4 linked regions of the Homo sapiens genome follow. The protein of the gene in region 1 purifies or fractionates together with the protein of each later gene. This does not show direct contact. Each region holds a gene or a part of one and is shown on either strand. Other genes may lie near its edges.

Evidence for each region. The genes of interacting proteins can lie anywhere in the genome.
Region 2: the proteins of SLC9C2 (region 1) and VPS13C purify together in Homo sapiens (affinity purification with mass spectrometry; one large-scale study listed by BioGRID and IntAct). This does not show direct contact.
Region 3: the proteins of SLC9C2 (region 1) and CLPTM1 purify together in Homo sapiens (affinity purification with mass spectrometry; one large-scale study listed by BioGRID and IntAct). This does not show direct contact.
Region 4: the proteins of SLC9C2 (region 1) and UFD1 purify together in Homo sapiens (affinity purification with mass spectrometry; one large-scale study listed by BioGRID and IntAct). This does not show direct contact.

Annotation. Positions count from the first base shown.
Region 1 is NC_000001.11:173,523,073-173,526,572, reverse strand, and holds part of SLC9C2 (sodium/hydrogen exchanger 11), read left to right. Parts: intron 1-1,645; coding exon 1,646-1,794; intron 1,795-2,478; coding exon 2,479-2,604; intron 2,605-3,500. UniProt on the Homo sapiens protein: Involved in pH regulation.
Region 2 is NC_000015.10:61,917,448-61,920,947, reverse strand, and holds part of VPS13C (intermembrane lipid transfer protein VPS13C), read left to right. Parts: intron 1-300; coding exon 301-450; intron 451-616; coding exon 617-881; intron 882-1,498; coding exon 1,499-1,659; intron 1,660-2,163; coding exon of another isoform or gene 2,164-2,226; exon of another isoform or gene 2,227-2,584; intron 2,585-2,690; coding exon 2,691-2,812; intron 2,813-3,312; coding exon 3,313-3,500. UniProt on the Homo sapiens protein: Mediates the transfer of lipids between membranes at organelle contact sites. Necessary for proper mitochondrial function and maintenance of mitochondrial transmembrane potential.
Region 3 is NC_000019.10:44,958,380-44,961,879, reverse strand, and holds part of CLPTM1 (putative lipid scramblase CLPTM1), read right to left. Parts: intron 1-3,500. UniProt on the Homo sapiens protein: Involved in GABAergic but not glutamatergic transmission. Binds and traps GABAA receptors in the endoplasmic reticulum (ER).
Region 4 is NC_000022.11:19,452,303-19,455,193, reverse strand, and holds part of UFD1 (ubiquitin recognition factor in ER-associated degradation protein 1), read left to right. Parts: intron 1-363; coding exon 364-445; intron 446-2,891. UniProt on the Homo sapiens protein: Essential component of the ubiquitin-dependent proteolytic pathway which degrades ubiquitin fusion proteins.

The sequences.
Region 1 (3,500 bases):
GCTCATTCATTTATGCATTCAACAAGCATTTATTAAACACAGCTAATGGGCCAGGTATGGGAAAGCAAAGATGAGTAGATCCTGACCCTTAAACAGTGCAGAATCTTGTGGAGTGTATGAGCGTATCAATAGATAATTGAAAAAGTTAGCAGAGTCCTGTTAGTTGTTATGGGAGTGTACAGGAAAGAATGAGAGGAGTGTGGAAAGTGTATTAAGGTGGCAAGGTCAGAGTCCTCAAGGTTAGAAGAAAAAGACATGTGAAGGTTACCTTTGACAAAATGGTTTTGTTTCATTGTTTTGTTTTTTGCAAAGATACTCTGGAACATAGGGCTGCAACGAATGTCATTTCCTGAGTATCTACAGTCACTCCACTTTATTTGAAGCACAGAGCAGGAGCCCAGGGATTTTATGCCAAGTTTTTTTGGGTCAGCTTTTCTCATGGGGGGCTGTGGGCCAGGCTGTCAGTGTGTGCAAAAGCATCTGGTAGAGGGCCCAGCATATGGAAGGCCCTTAATAAATGGAAGTTATCAGAAAAGAAAATAAAGTAAAACCATTTCATATTCATGACCACATTGTAAGATGCCATATGGGGTTACACTTTCCAAATCAAAATGGAAAGAATGTGATCTAATGAATGAAAGTGTAAGTTTAGAGACAACAGATTAGAATATTTTGGCATTATCTCAGAAAACCCATGACCCATTGTTGCCATTTATATGTTGACAGATTTTTATTTCTGTGCTTTTAAAGATTAGGGGTTAGGACAGCTGCATTATATTATGTTTTAGATCAGTATGGAATATTACAAAGTTTTCTCAATTCACTACTCTAAAAGGCAGTGCTTGTTTCCATGTGGTTACTGCAACTGATGACTGAATGCTTATCATGGCAGGAACTGCTAACTCTTTATGTACATTATCTCATTTAATCCTTATAATTACTCTGTGAGGCAAATACTATTATTACAGAGGTTAATTTGCCTGAGGCCCTATGGCTAGTAAGTAGTGAGCCAGGTTTCTAGCCCAGGTGTATTTGACACTAAAACCTATGCTTTTGATCATTGCTACCTTTCACTTTAGTGGTCAATTCATTTAGTTAAAAAGAAAAGAGTGTGTACCTTCGATATGGCAAGCATTGTGTTCAATGTTGAATATGAAGATGAAACAGATGCAATTTTAACCTTGACTCACAGTCCAGTTCATGTCTTCTGAGGTTTACTGAAGGGGAAAGAATATGCTCCTTGATCTCAGAAAGACCCACCAGCCAAAGTCCAGGGGTACTTTCATTGTGTCATTTATTCGTCTAACCAACAAAAATTATACAATATGGAGGATGAGACAGAGAAGTAAAAATAGTAACATGATAATGTAATGAGTTCCATAATAGAGATATGGAGGAGATGCCATGGGGATAAGAGAGAGAGAGTGATTTTCTCTTAGCTGATGGGGGAAGCCAGTTTCCAATTTTCTCATCCATAAAATAGAGTTGAAAATAACTCTTTGCCTGCTGACCTCATGAGTTCTGCATGAAACTAGAATCAAAGAATATTGTGTAAATGCTTTGGAAATTATACAGTATTATACTAATATTAGTTATTGTGGTTATTGCATAGGCCACTTACTGAATTTTATTTTCTTTGCTGTAGTACTCATGGAGCATGAGGGTCGTGATGTTGTCATTGCTTTGAAGACTAAACAGGCAATCCGGAATGTGATTGCTAAAGCTCTAAAAAATCTCACCTTCCTTTGTTCAAGAGGCATTATTGATAAGCATGAAGTCATTGAGATAAATAAGGTAATTTTGCTTGATTCTGTCCGCATAACACCCCAGCCTTCATGGTTACTTTAGCAGTGTGTAATAAGGAGGGAGATTGAAAAAATTGTTTAACCACAGGTGTTAACTCTATAATCACCTTCAGCCTTTGATAATGCAAAGGACAACGAATGCCGATGCAATCCGGTACACTCCATTTGTCAAAACTACTTGATTGCAAGTAACAGAAACCAACTTGAACTAAGTTTAGTAAAGAAATGGTTGGGGGATTTATCAAAAGGACGCAGAGTACTTTATAGAACCCACAATAGCCAGGATATGTGACAAGGCCTAAGGAAGGGATTTGAACAGCGATGTAGAAAGCTTTCTAGATTCTCCATTTCCTATCAGGGTTGCCCTCTATGGCATCTTCCTTTGGCTTTCCCTATAGACTCACTAGATTTTTCTGCTTCTCCATCCACTGTGTCAATTGAATTATGAAGATGATAGGTTCAATCTGAGTTAATAAGTCAGTGAAAATAGTAATAAGGGGAGACTAGGGACAAAAATGGTTAGAGGAATTTAGATAGGATGAGACAAGCTGTGAGTCAACAATCAAGGTTAAACTTGCCTAACAGTAGTTTATTTAGATTTCCTTAGTTTTTCCCTAGTGTCCATTTTCTGTTACAGGATCTGATCCCCATTATTTTGATTATTTGTTTTTAGGTACTTCTTAAAAAATTAAAAGCACTAAATAACTTTCCAAAGGCAATCCCACCCCCAACTCCTGACATATACCTTCACAACATCATTTGGCTGGAAGGTAAAGATGTTCTCATTGACTTCTTCAAGGTAAAGATTCCGTTTTCTATTCTGGCTCAGGTTTGATGGTAATTATCCATTTTTTTCCACTCCCTAATGAAAGATTAACAGAAAAGCATATCACATACTGGCCAATTCAGGGAAAGCCAAAATGGAGGCCCAGGAAAGCCTAGAGGAAGACTAGATCTCTTTTTGAGCCTAAAGGGCAAAGATAGTTTTTCACAATGGCTTATCCGCTTATGAGTAGCTATATGTGTCTGACTATTACCAATCCCATTCTATTTTATGTTGTAGAGTTCTGGACTTCTTGATGTACACTCTGGGAGAGACATTTTTTAGAGCAAGGGTCTCAAATTTAAGTTACTGCACAGACCGGGCAGATAGTGTAAAAGTAAAGCCAATTGGGCATAGTGTAATAGGGAACAGTGAGAACTGAGGTGTATTCAAGTTCATGCTCTGTCAGCTGACGGTTGCCACAGGACTTTGAATTCTTTCAACAAATATCTATTGAATATCCTCTACATGCCAGAGACTGTTCTAGGTTTTGGGATATGGCAGTAAACAAAACAGATGAAGTCCCTACTTTCATTTTTTAATTTTTATTTTATTCTTTTTATTTATTTTTTTGAGATAGAGTCTCACTCTGCCGCCCAGGCTGGAGTGCAGTGGTGTGATCTCGGCTCACTGCAACCTCCGCCTCCCGGGTTCAAGTGATCCTCCTGCCTCAGCCTCCCAAGTAGCTGGGATTACAGGCCTGTGCCACCATGCCCAGCTAATTTTTGTATTTTCAGTAGAGACGGGGTTTCATCATGTTGGCCAGGCTGGTCTCGAACTCCTTACTTCAAGTGATCCACCCGCCTTGGCCTCCCAAAGTGCTGGGATTACAGGTGTGAGCCACTGTGCCTGGCAGAAGTCCCTGCTTTCAA
Region 2 (3,500 bases), on another chromosome or scaffold:
AGTTGGGTGACACTGAATAAATAGCTATGCTCTGAGGAATGCATAAGAGACAAATATTGTAGCTGGCTTTGAGTAATTTCATGGCGTAATTCTAAACTTTTCCCCATGCTTGGACTATACCCTGAAAGAATGAATGCTGAACTCCATGAAATCAAAGTGAAGCATGGTATATTTTTGAAAATAAGACTTTTGCGAAGCATTACTATAAAGTGATCAGTTTAGGAGAACTGAACTCCAGCATTTTTATTTTATTATCAACTGGCTAATAATTTAAATTTGCTGTGTTATTTTTCTTCATAGGTAAAGAAGAACCCAGTTCAGGATAAAAGTTTGCTGCCAGGAGATGATTTTATTCCTGAGCCACAAATGGCAATTCATATTTCTTCAGGAAATACAATGAATATAACAATATCCAAAAGTTGTCTTAATGTTTTCAACAATTTAGCAAAAGTATGTCTGAATCTTGCTTAGAATATTTCAAGTGGAATTTTAAAATGAAACATATAATTTTTTTGTCATCAAAATTAGTTTCCAAAAAATGTGTAATTATGGTATAGGTTTTGGGAAGAATGTATGTTTTTCAAAAATTTTACTGTGATGATATGTTCCTTTTCAGGGTTTTTCAGAGGGCACTGCTTCTACTTTTGACTACTCTTTAAAGGACAGAGCTCCTTTTACGGTAAAAAATGCTGTAGGTGTTCCCATTAAGGTGAAGCCCAATTGTAATCTCAGAGTAATGGGCTTCCCTGAGAAAAGTGATATTTTTGATGTTGATGCTGGCCAGAATTTGGAACTGGAGTATGCCAGCATGGTACCTTCAAGTCAAGGGAACCTATCTATATTGAGCCGTCAAGAAAGCTCCTTCTTCACTCTGACCATTGGTAGGCTATATTTGTTTTCCTTAAGGGTATCTTAGCAGTTGTTGGTGTGGGCTTATTTTTGATAAAATGTGAAAAAACATTTTGCTGCAGATATCTGGAGATACAACATTTGAAACATATAATTGCTAACCTCTTGTTTCTTGTTTTCTAAACTTGAGAAAATTAAACTTTATTGATTTAAGAAAACTTTACAAAACTAGATTATTTTTGTGCCCTTAAATAATGTATATATTATATAATATATATAAATATTATATATATAATGTGTTTTTAAAAGGATAGGAGTTTACTGAGGAGAGAAAATAGCTATATTCAGAAGTCTTACAGTGTTGACACTGTGACAAAGAAAAAGATTGTTGCTATATGATTGAGAGAATAAGAAATAAGTTGGATTTTGTTTTTATATTCAAAACCCCAAGCAAAACTGTTTTCAGCCAAAAATTTTATAACAGTAACTGGTCTTCTTTTTAAGTTTATGTCTTAGAAAAGCAATTTGTGGTGATCATTTCTAGTGATGAGGAAAAATACTCTTCATTATTTTGAGGTACTAATGATTGTTATAGAGAAACATTGGCAAATTAATATTTGGAATTCTTTTCACTTATGCACTGCCTTAGTACCTCATGGATATACAGAAGTTGCAAATATCCCTGTGGCCAGACCTGGACGGCGATTGTATAATGTACGGAATCCCAATGCCAGTCATTCTGACTCTGTCTTGGTACAAATTGATGCAACTGAAGGGAATAAAGTAATTACCCTTCGCTCTCCTCTACAGGTAATACTTCAAAGTTAATTGTATCCCTTTCAGTGTACCAAGAAATGGTTAAATCATTTAGCTGAATATAGGAATACAGTAAAACTTCATCAGGTCAATTCTGATTATTCAGAAATAAATAGTAATTATTCAGAAATAAATAGTAACAGAAATGGCTTCTATTTACTGTCCAGCTTGCTCTGATAATATTTATTTTAAATGTCTGTAGTTTTGTTTACTTAAAGCTCATTTTTGTTTTCTGTCTTTTAAGACAAATGCAAAATTAATAAAGCTCTTTTGGTATATTCCTTTAAATATTCAGAACCGAGGATTATTGTAATTGTAGTTAGGAAACATTCCATTCTCTTTGTATGTCACTTGGATTATATTTTTCAAGATATGTATGAAGGCATATTGGAATGATCTATCCCTCTGAAAAACATTTTAGCATCTTAATCTGTGTAAATATTTTTTCTACTTTTAAGGTTTTATCCAACATTTTTCTTTTTCTGTGTATTACTACAGGTTTCAGCATATGGTCAACAAAAGAACATTTTTTTTCCTACCTGTAACATCAGATACAAATGAAAAGGTTTCAAATTTTGGACATTGTTATCTTATAGTTTGTTATTTGCTCCAATGCGTAACAGACTGATGTCAAGAAAAGAATTGTACTATTTTTCTCATGATTTTTTGCTATCCATTTCTGTTTAGTTGTTATACATGATACATTGAGAAAAGATTGTCATGGAGAAAAAATGGCTTAAATCTTCAGAGAATAATACATATTTGAAAGATAATATAGACTAATACTAAACATAAGCTTATAATATATGGAGCATTTGAATATCTCAGTTTTCAACTGACACTTAAACATTAAATTTAATATATATAGCACTTAAATACCCTAAAATTTTTCAATTGCCAATAAAAATATCTTCCAATACTGAGTTTGAAATTTTTTAGATCTAAAAGTATTTGTTTGTGGCTCTCATTTTTTCTTTCGAACTTACATATCTTTTAAAAAACTTGTATTTTTTTTTGTCCAACAGATCAAAAACCATTTCTCCATTGCATTTATCATCTATAAATTTGTTAAGAATGTTAAGCTATTGGAGCGCATTGGGATAGCCAGACCTGAAGAGGAGTTCCATGTTCCTTTAGATTCATATAGGTAGATACTTCTTAAATGTATTAAACTTTAAATGTATTGAGTTGGGGATTTATATTCTGGCAAATAACTTCATATTTTTATTAACTAAAGATCAGTAAAAGCCAGTTTTAAGACATAATTTAGTCTTCCATTGAGAAATACATTTATATTATCATTGAATTTATCAGGTGAAAATTCCTGACTGTATATTTGATGTCAGGATTTTTCTGACTATTTTTATTAGATTGCCTTTGTATTTGAAATGAAAATTTTTTTAAGTTGTCTTGTTTACAGAGTTGTTTTTTGTTTGTTTGTTCTTTTCAGAAAGTCCTCCGTAAGTTAGCTATGTGATTTTGGGTGAATTTCCTAACCTTTTTTTTAGCCCTGGTTTCCTCATCTGTATATCTGTAAAAACAGGAATAATAGCACCTATCTTGTAGAGTTGTCAGGAAGATTTAATGAGATGCTTTTTTTTAAGTTGTGGATCAAAACTTTATTGTCACTGTTTCCTCTTTCTGCAGATGTCAATTGTTTATCCAGCCAGCTGGAATCTTAGAGCATCAGTACAAAGAATCTACCACTTATATTTCCTGGAAGGAAGAACTTCATAGGAGCAGGGAAGTCAGATGCATGTTGCAGTGTCCATCAGTAGAAGTCAGCTTCTTACCTCTCATAGTGAATACAGTTGCTCTGCCTGATGAATTGAGCT
Region 3 (3,500 bases), on another chromosome or scaffold:
AGGCTGGGCAAAGAGTGGGTGCTTATCAATAACTGGAGAATGAATCAGTGAAAACACCTGGGAAGGTGCGGTCCTCTTCTTTTAGGAGGAAAACACTCGCAGAGCACCTCTGTGACCTAGGGACAGTGGTGACCTAGAGAGTCTTTTGCTGTCCTCCTGGGGTTTAACAGCCCGGTGGGGGAGAAAGATTCATCTCTAGACAGTGACTGTCCAGAACGGGGCAGGAATGCAGGAGCCCTGAGAGGCACCTGGTCCAGTCTAGGGTTCGGGGCAACTTCCTGGAGAAGGGGGCATTGAAGCTGAGACCTAAAACATAGCAAGTTGGTGGCACAAAGGAGGAAGTGAGAGAAGCAGCAGGTGCAGAAACAGAAGATTAGAGGCACAGTCTGATTCTGATGACTGTCCACTGTTCCCTGGGGCTGGAGCCAGGATGCAAGGAGGTGGCTATTGGGGACAACAACAGAAGGAGTCTTATGGCAGGTGCCAGATTCTTCAAGGCTGGGGCTTAGCTGAAAGAGCCTTCCCTGGGCAAACCATTCCTGAGGCCCCCTCTGTGGCCAACCCTGCCCTCCAAGGGCCCCTGGTCCAGCAGGTGGGACAGACACAGAAAAACACAACCAGACTATCAGCTGCTACCATAAGCCACGGCCACAAGACATGTCTGTGACAGCACACAGCACACTAATCCTGAGGCCAAAACTATGACCAGCTCCATCCGGCTGCTGAGCAAAGGGAGGCTCAGAGAGGTGAAGCCACTTGTCTGGTCACTCAGGAAGGACCGCAGAAGCAGAATGACAGAAGGGAAGGGGGGCAGGCAAGGGAGCCAGGCACGGCTTCCCAGAGGAGGACTCTTCACTCAGACACAGAAGGTCACAATCAGAGACTCTCTGAATGCCAGGTTTGGAAGGGGATGTTCTGCTCACCCTTCACGCACCCTGCTAGCTCCCCAGTCCTGTTCTCATTCACCCCTCCTCCCAGCTGTCCCCTCAGCCATCAGCCTTCAAGAGGCAGGACCAGGGCTATCACAGTCACAGTTAGCTCAAGAGCACCAGTGGCACAGAGCAAGGCTGTGATAAACACCTGTGTGGCCACCGCTGCCTGAAGGACTCACCCCGGACGCTCAGGTCACCCAAACCCACTTCCCTCTGAGGCTCCAGTGTCTGGCCCTCTCCTCCACAGCCCCTAGTCCACTCCTCTGCAATGTTTTCTCCATTCACCTTACCCACCAGATAGCAAATGTCCCAGGAGCATGGTTAGAGGGGCTACATGTGTTAAATGTGTCACTTGTCACCTCCTGTCCCCTTCACCAGCAAGAGCTCTTTCCTGTAATCTCCCAAAGCACAGGACACCATTGGAGGGGCTCCAGGGTCAAACAGACCTCAGCTATAGTCCTGGTCCCACCGTTCTTGGCTGTGACACCTTGGGCACATCACTTCACCTCTCTGACCTGTGGACCAGGTTGTGAAAATACTGGAACATTTTAGACAGAAATCTGGGCCCTGCTTACCCAGAGCTGGGGATCTAGAAGGAAACACACTAGAACGGTAAACAGGATAATTAAAAATGGTACATGGAAAACAAGCAGGGGGAAGTGACAGCAACTGAGTTGGGAACAGGGATCCACTTTGGAGTGGGTGGTCAGAGAGGCCTCCCTGAGGAGCTCCCTTTGACGTCTGGGTCGTCTGGGTGAGACCCTTAGGCTGAGACAGAGAAAGCCACATTCTGATGAGGAGATCTATGGGGCGGGGGTCGGCTGGGGAAGGGAAATCAGACAGGCACAAGGCCCCCTCCTCAAGGCCAGCCTAGCTATTGGGAAATTTAGGGGTCCAAGTATGGGTTTCAATGGGTCTGAGCTGATTTGGGGTCAGGAAAGGACACTTGATGCCAGGTCAGGATTTGAAGCTGCATCTGACTGACTCCCAGGTCTCTTCGCTTACCCGTTAGTGATGGGCAATCTGGCTGGGAACCTTCCCACGGAAAGGCAAGTTAAAACCACAATGAGGTGTCACTTCACACCTATTAGGATGGCTATCAGCAGAAAGACAATCACAAGTGCTGGCAGGGATGTGGAAAAACAGGAACCCTCGTATGCTGCTAGGGGGGAAAGTAAAAGTACAGCTACTTCGGAAAATATGGCAGTTATTGAACAAGTCATATGTGCACCTACTACACAATCCAGCAAACCCATCCTGAATGGCTACCCAGGAGGCAGAAAACATGAAGCCAGACCAGGCGCAGTGGCTCACGCCTATAATCCCAGAACTTCAGGAGGCCAAGGCAGGAAGACTGCTTGAGCCCAGGAGTTCAAGACCAGCCTGGGCAACACAGCAAGACCTCATCTCTATAAAAATACAAAAATTAGCCAGGTGTGGTAGTGCATGCCTGTGGTCCCAGCTACTCAGGAGGCTGAGACGGGAGGATCAATTGAGCCTTGGAGAATGAGGCTACAGTGAACCAGGATCACACCACTGCACTCCAGCCTAGGCGACAGAGCATGACTCTGTCTCAAAAACAAACAGTGGCCAGGTGTGGTGGCTCATGCCTATAATCCTAGCACTTTGGGAGGCCAAGGCAGGAGGATCCATTGAGCCCAGGAGTTCGAGACCAGCCTGAGCAACACAGGGAGACCCTGTCTCTCTTACTTAGAAAAAAAAAAAAAGAAACAAAATACAGCCACAGAAAAGCCTGTACATGAATGTTCATAGCAGCATTATTGGCAACAGACAAAAACTAAAAACAATCCAAATATCCTTCAAGGACTGAAAGAATAAACTGTGTCATGTCTGCAGACTACCACTGAGCAGTGAAAAGGAACAACTGTGAGCACGTACTTTAGGATTTCCCCAAAGGCCAAATTTCCCTGATCCTAGGTTGTAAAAAATAAAATAAAAATGAACAACTGCAGATCTATGTAACAACATGAACCTCAAACCCATTATGCCCAATGAAAGAAGCTGGACACAAAAGACTGGATGTTGTTTAGATCCTTGTTTAAGACATTTTTAGAAAATTACAGAGATAGCACCTCTGTGGCTGCCTAGGATTGGGAGCAGCAGAGACTGTAAAAGGGAACTTTTTGAGGGGACAGAAGCTTTCTCAGACCAGACTGTGGTGATGGCTGCACCACACAACTGCATAAATGGACCAGGAGCCAATGGACTCTATCCTAAGAACAGGTGAACGTTATACCATCTAAATTATACCACAAGGCTGGACGTGGTGGCTCACGCCTGAAATCCCAGCACTTTGGGAGGCCGAGGTGGGCAGATCACCTGAGGTCAGGAGTTCAAGACCAGCCTGGCCAACCTGGTGAAACCCTGTCTCTACTAAAAATACAAAAATTAGCTGGGTGTGGTGGCAGGTGCTTGTAATCCCAGCTACTTGAGAGGCTGAGGTAGAAGAATTGCCTGAACCCAGGAGACGGAGGTTGCAGTGAGCCGAGATTGTGGTGAGAAAGCGAGACTCCGTCTCAGAAAAAAGAAAAAAAAAAAAAGAGTCAC
Region 4 (2,891 bases), on another chromosome or scaffold:
AGGGCTGAGGTGTGTCAGTTGTCTGTTGTGTGTGTGAAATCAGAATACTGGAGTGAGAGTCTAGCCACCTCAGGGGGTTCTGTGAAGCTCAGGACAGTGACAGTGAGGGCTTCCCAATCCTTCAGATGACCCCTCTCCATAGACAGGTACAGAGCCTAAAGCCCCTGGCCCTATACCCAATATTGATACCAAACCAAGAAGTCAGTTACTTTCTGCTTCCCTCCTGGGAGGATGCCAGGAAGCACCAAAGGGCCCAGGTGGGGTGCAGCAGCATCTTTTCTGCGTTCCTCTTGACTGTCAAAAATGAATTTTAGTCCTTTTTTCCTGGAAATAACATTTCTCTGTCTCTGTCTCTTCTTACAGAGGAATTCCCAATTATGAATTTAAACTTGGTAAGATAACTTTCATCAGAAATTCACGTCCCCTTGTCAAAAAGGTTGAAGAGGTGAGTGTATTTCCTTGTATTTCCTTGGTTGGTAATGAGGAGATTTATTTGCTAGTGATGACTGAAGTTCTTGGCATTCTGAGTAGGGGTGTGCATTAGTCTGTTTCCAAGCTGCTGGTAAAGATGTACCCGAGACTGGGCAATTTACAAAAGAAAGAGGTTTAATGGACTTACAGTTCACATGGCTGGGGAGGCCTCACAATCATGGCAGGGGGCAAGTCACATCTTACATGGATGGTAGCAGGCAGAGAAAAAGCTGGTGCAGGGAAACACCTACTTATAAAACCATCAGATCTCATGAGACTTATTCACTATCATGATAACAGCACGGAAAAGACCCGCCCTCATGACTCAGTTACCTCCCACCGACTCAGTTACCTCCCACCTGGTCCCTCCCACAACACGTGGTAATTCAAGATGAGATTTGGGTGGGGACGCAGCCAAACCACATGAGGGTGTCTGTCATGTTTTCCCTTTCCTAGGGTCCCTCTGCTCCCTGGTGTCCTGTTTTTTTCTGTAGAGCTGGTGTAGGGTGTATGAAACAGAAGACTTGCAGCATGGGGGTCAGGAGCTCTGTCTTGCTCTAGAGCCGACTCCAGGCTCTGTTATCACAGAACTGTGTGCCCTGGGTGGGCTTCGTCTTCCAACAGAGACCTTGAACTTCAAATATAGGCAGCACCTTCTAGCTGAGCAGGGTGGTGGCGGGACAGAGGAAGGCAAGGGCTGAGCATCCTGTAGACATGGGCACTTTGTGGGAATATGGCCAGGCCTGGCAGCAACTGGAACGCAGTCACCTCTTTGTGATGAGGATTTCTACAACACCAGCGCTTCAGACCCATCGCTCTCCTGGTTCCTTTTCTCAAAGGATTGGACCCTTGAGGATCCAGGATCAGGGCAGAGGGCAGATGTACTGAGCCACCCATTCAGGACCAGCTGCTACATGGGAGCCATCCCAATTACTGAACTCTTTTCTCTAGCACTTGGGGTGGTTGGGGACAGAGACCACTGTGAAGTTTGCACACCTGGTCCTACTCACAACCACTTCTGGGCTCAATGTTCAAGTTGAAACAGCATTGGGCATTGGGACCTTTCAGGCTCAGAGGAGCAAACATAGTGGCCAGTCAGACCTCACCCTCCAGCTCCTCCTTCAGGCACCATCCAGGCTTCACCAGCTACAGGCTGCCTTTCTCACTAAAAGCCAGTGCCTGACTCCGACCTAAGACCTTAGCATGGGACGTCCCCCAGGCTGACTGTGACCTGACTGTTGCAAATTTACAGAAGGCAGGGGAGGCCAGTGGGCACAGCAGGCCTGTTTGACCATAAATATGTATTTAAGAAGTATATGTTTAAAGATGGGATTGAAGACATATTTAGCTCTATTCCATCCTGCAGCCCCACTAAGGCTGTGGCTAAAGGTCATGAGGTAAGAAAGACAGTGGAAGAGGAGGCAACTACAAGGCTTTGGAAGCCCCAGGTACCTTAGTAGACCATAGAAAGCCTAGAAGCAGTTCTGTGTAGATTGTGGAATTCTCAAAAGGCACCTCTAGAAATGAGGGACTAAAGACAGAATTCTGTTACTAAGCAGTTAGAGCTGCATTACCCTCCCTCCCCCATCCCAGAAGGCTGGAGGCTCGACTCCAGTAGGTCTCTAGACTACTATCTCTGAAGTGAAGGCCACAGTCAGAAAGCTTTCCATTCCAGCATCTAAATAATAGAGGATTTGTGGGAAGAACAGCCACAGAAACCAAAGGAGCAGAAATCATCAGGGAAATAGTTTCCCCAAAGATGGGCACAATTTTGCAGATTTGAAGGGCTCACTGAGTTCCAGCAAAATGAATGAAAATAGCCCCACTTTGAGGCAAAGAAAGATCCTAAAGCTTCTAGAGAGAGAACAGAGGTATCACCATGCATTAAGGACATCATCAGCCAAGCGCCATGGCTCACACCTGTAATCCCAACACTTTGGGAGGCTGATGCGGGAAGATCATCTGAGCCCAGGAGTTTGAGACCAGCCTGGGCAATATAGGGAGACCCTGTCTCTACAGAAAATTTTAAAAATTAGCCAAGCATGGTGGCACGCACCTATAGTCCCAGCTACTTTAATGCTGAGTTGGGAGCATCACTTGAGCCTGGGAGGTGGAGGCTGCTGTGAGCTGAGATCACACCACTGCACTCCAGCCTGGGTAACAGTAAGTCCCTGTCTCCCAAAAAAAGGGACATCATCTTAGCAGGACACAGAGGAAACTAGAAGATAGTGGAGCAATATACTCAAAATTCTGAGGGGAAATTTTTTCCAACCTAAAATTCTGTACCAACTCTTATGAGCTGGATTGTGTCCCTCCAGTGTTTCTGTGTTGAAGCCCTAACCCCCAGTAACTCAGATAGGGCCATTTAAAGAAGCAATTAAGTTAAAATAAGACCATTAGAGTTGGCCATAATTCAATCT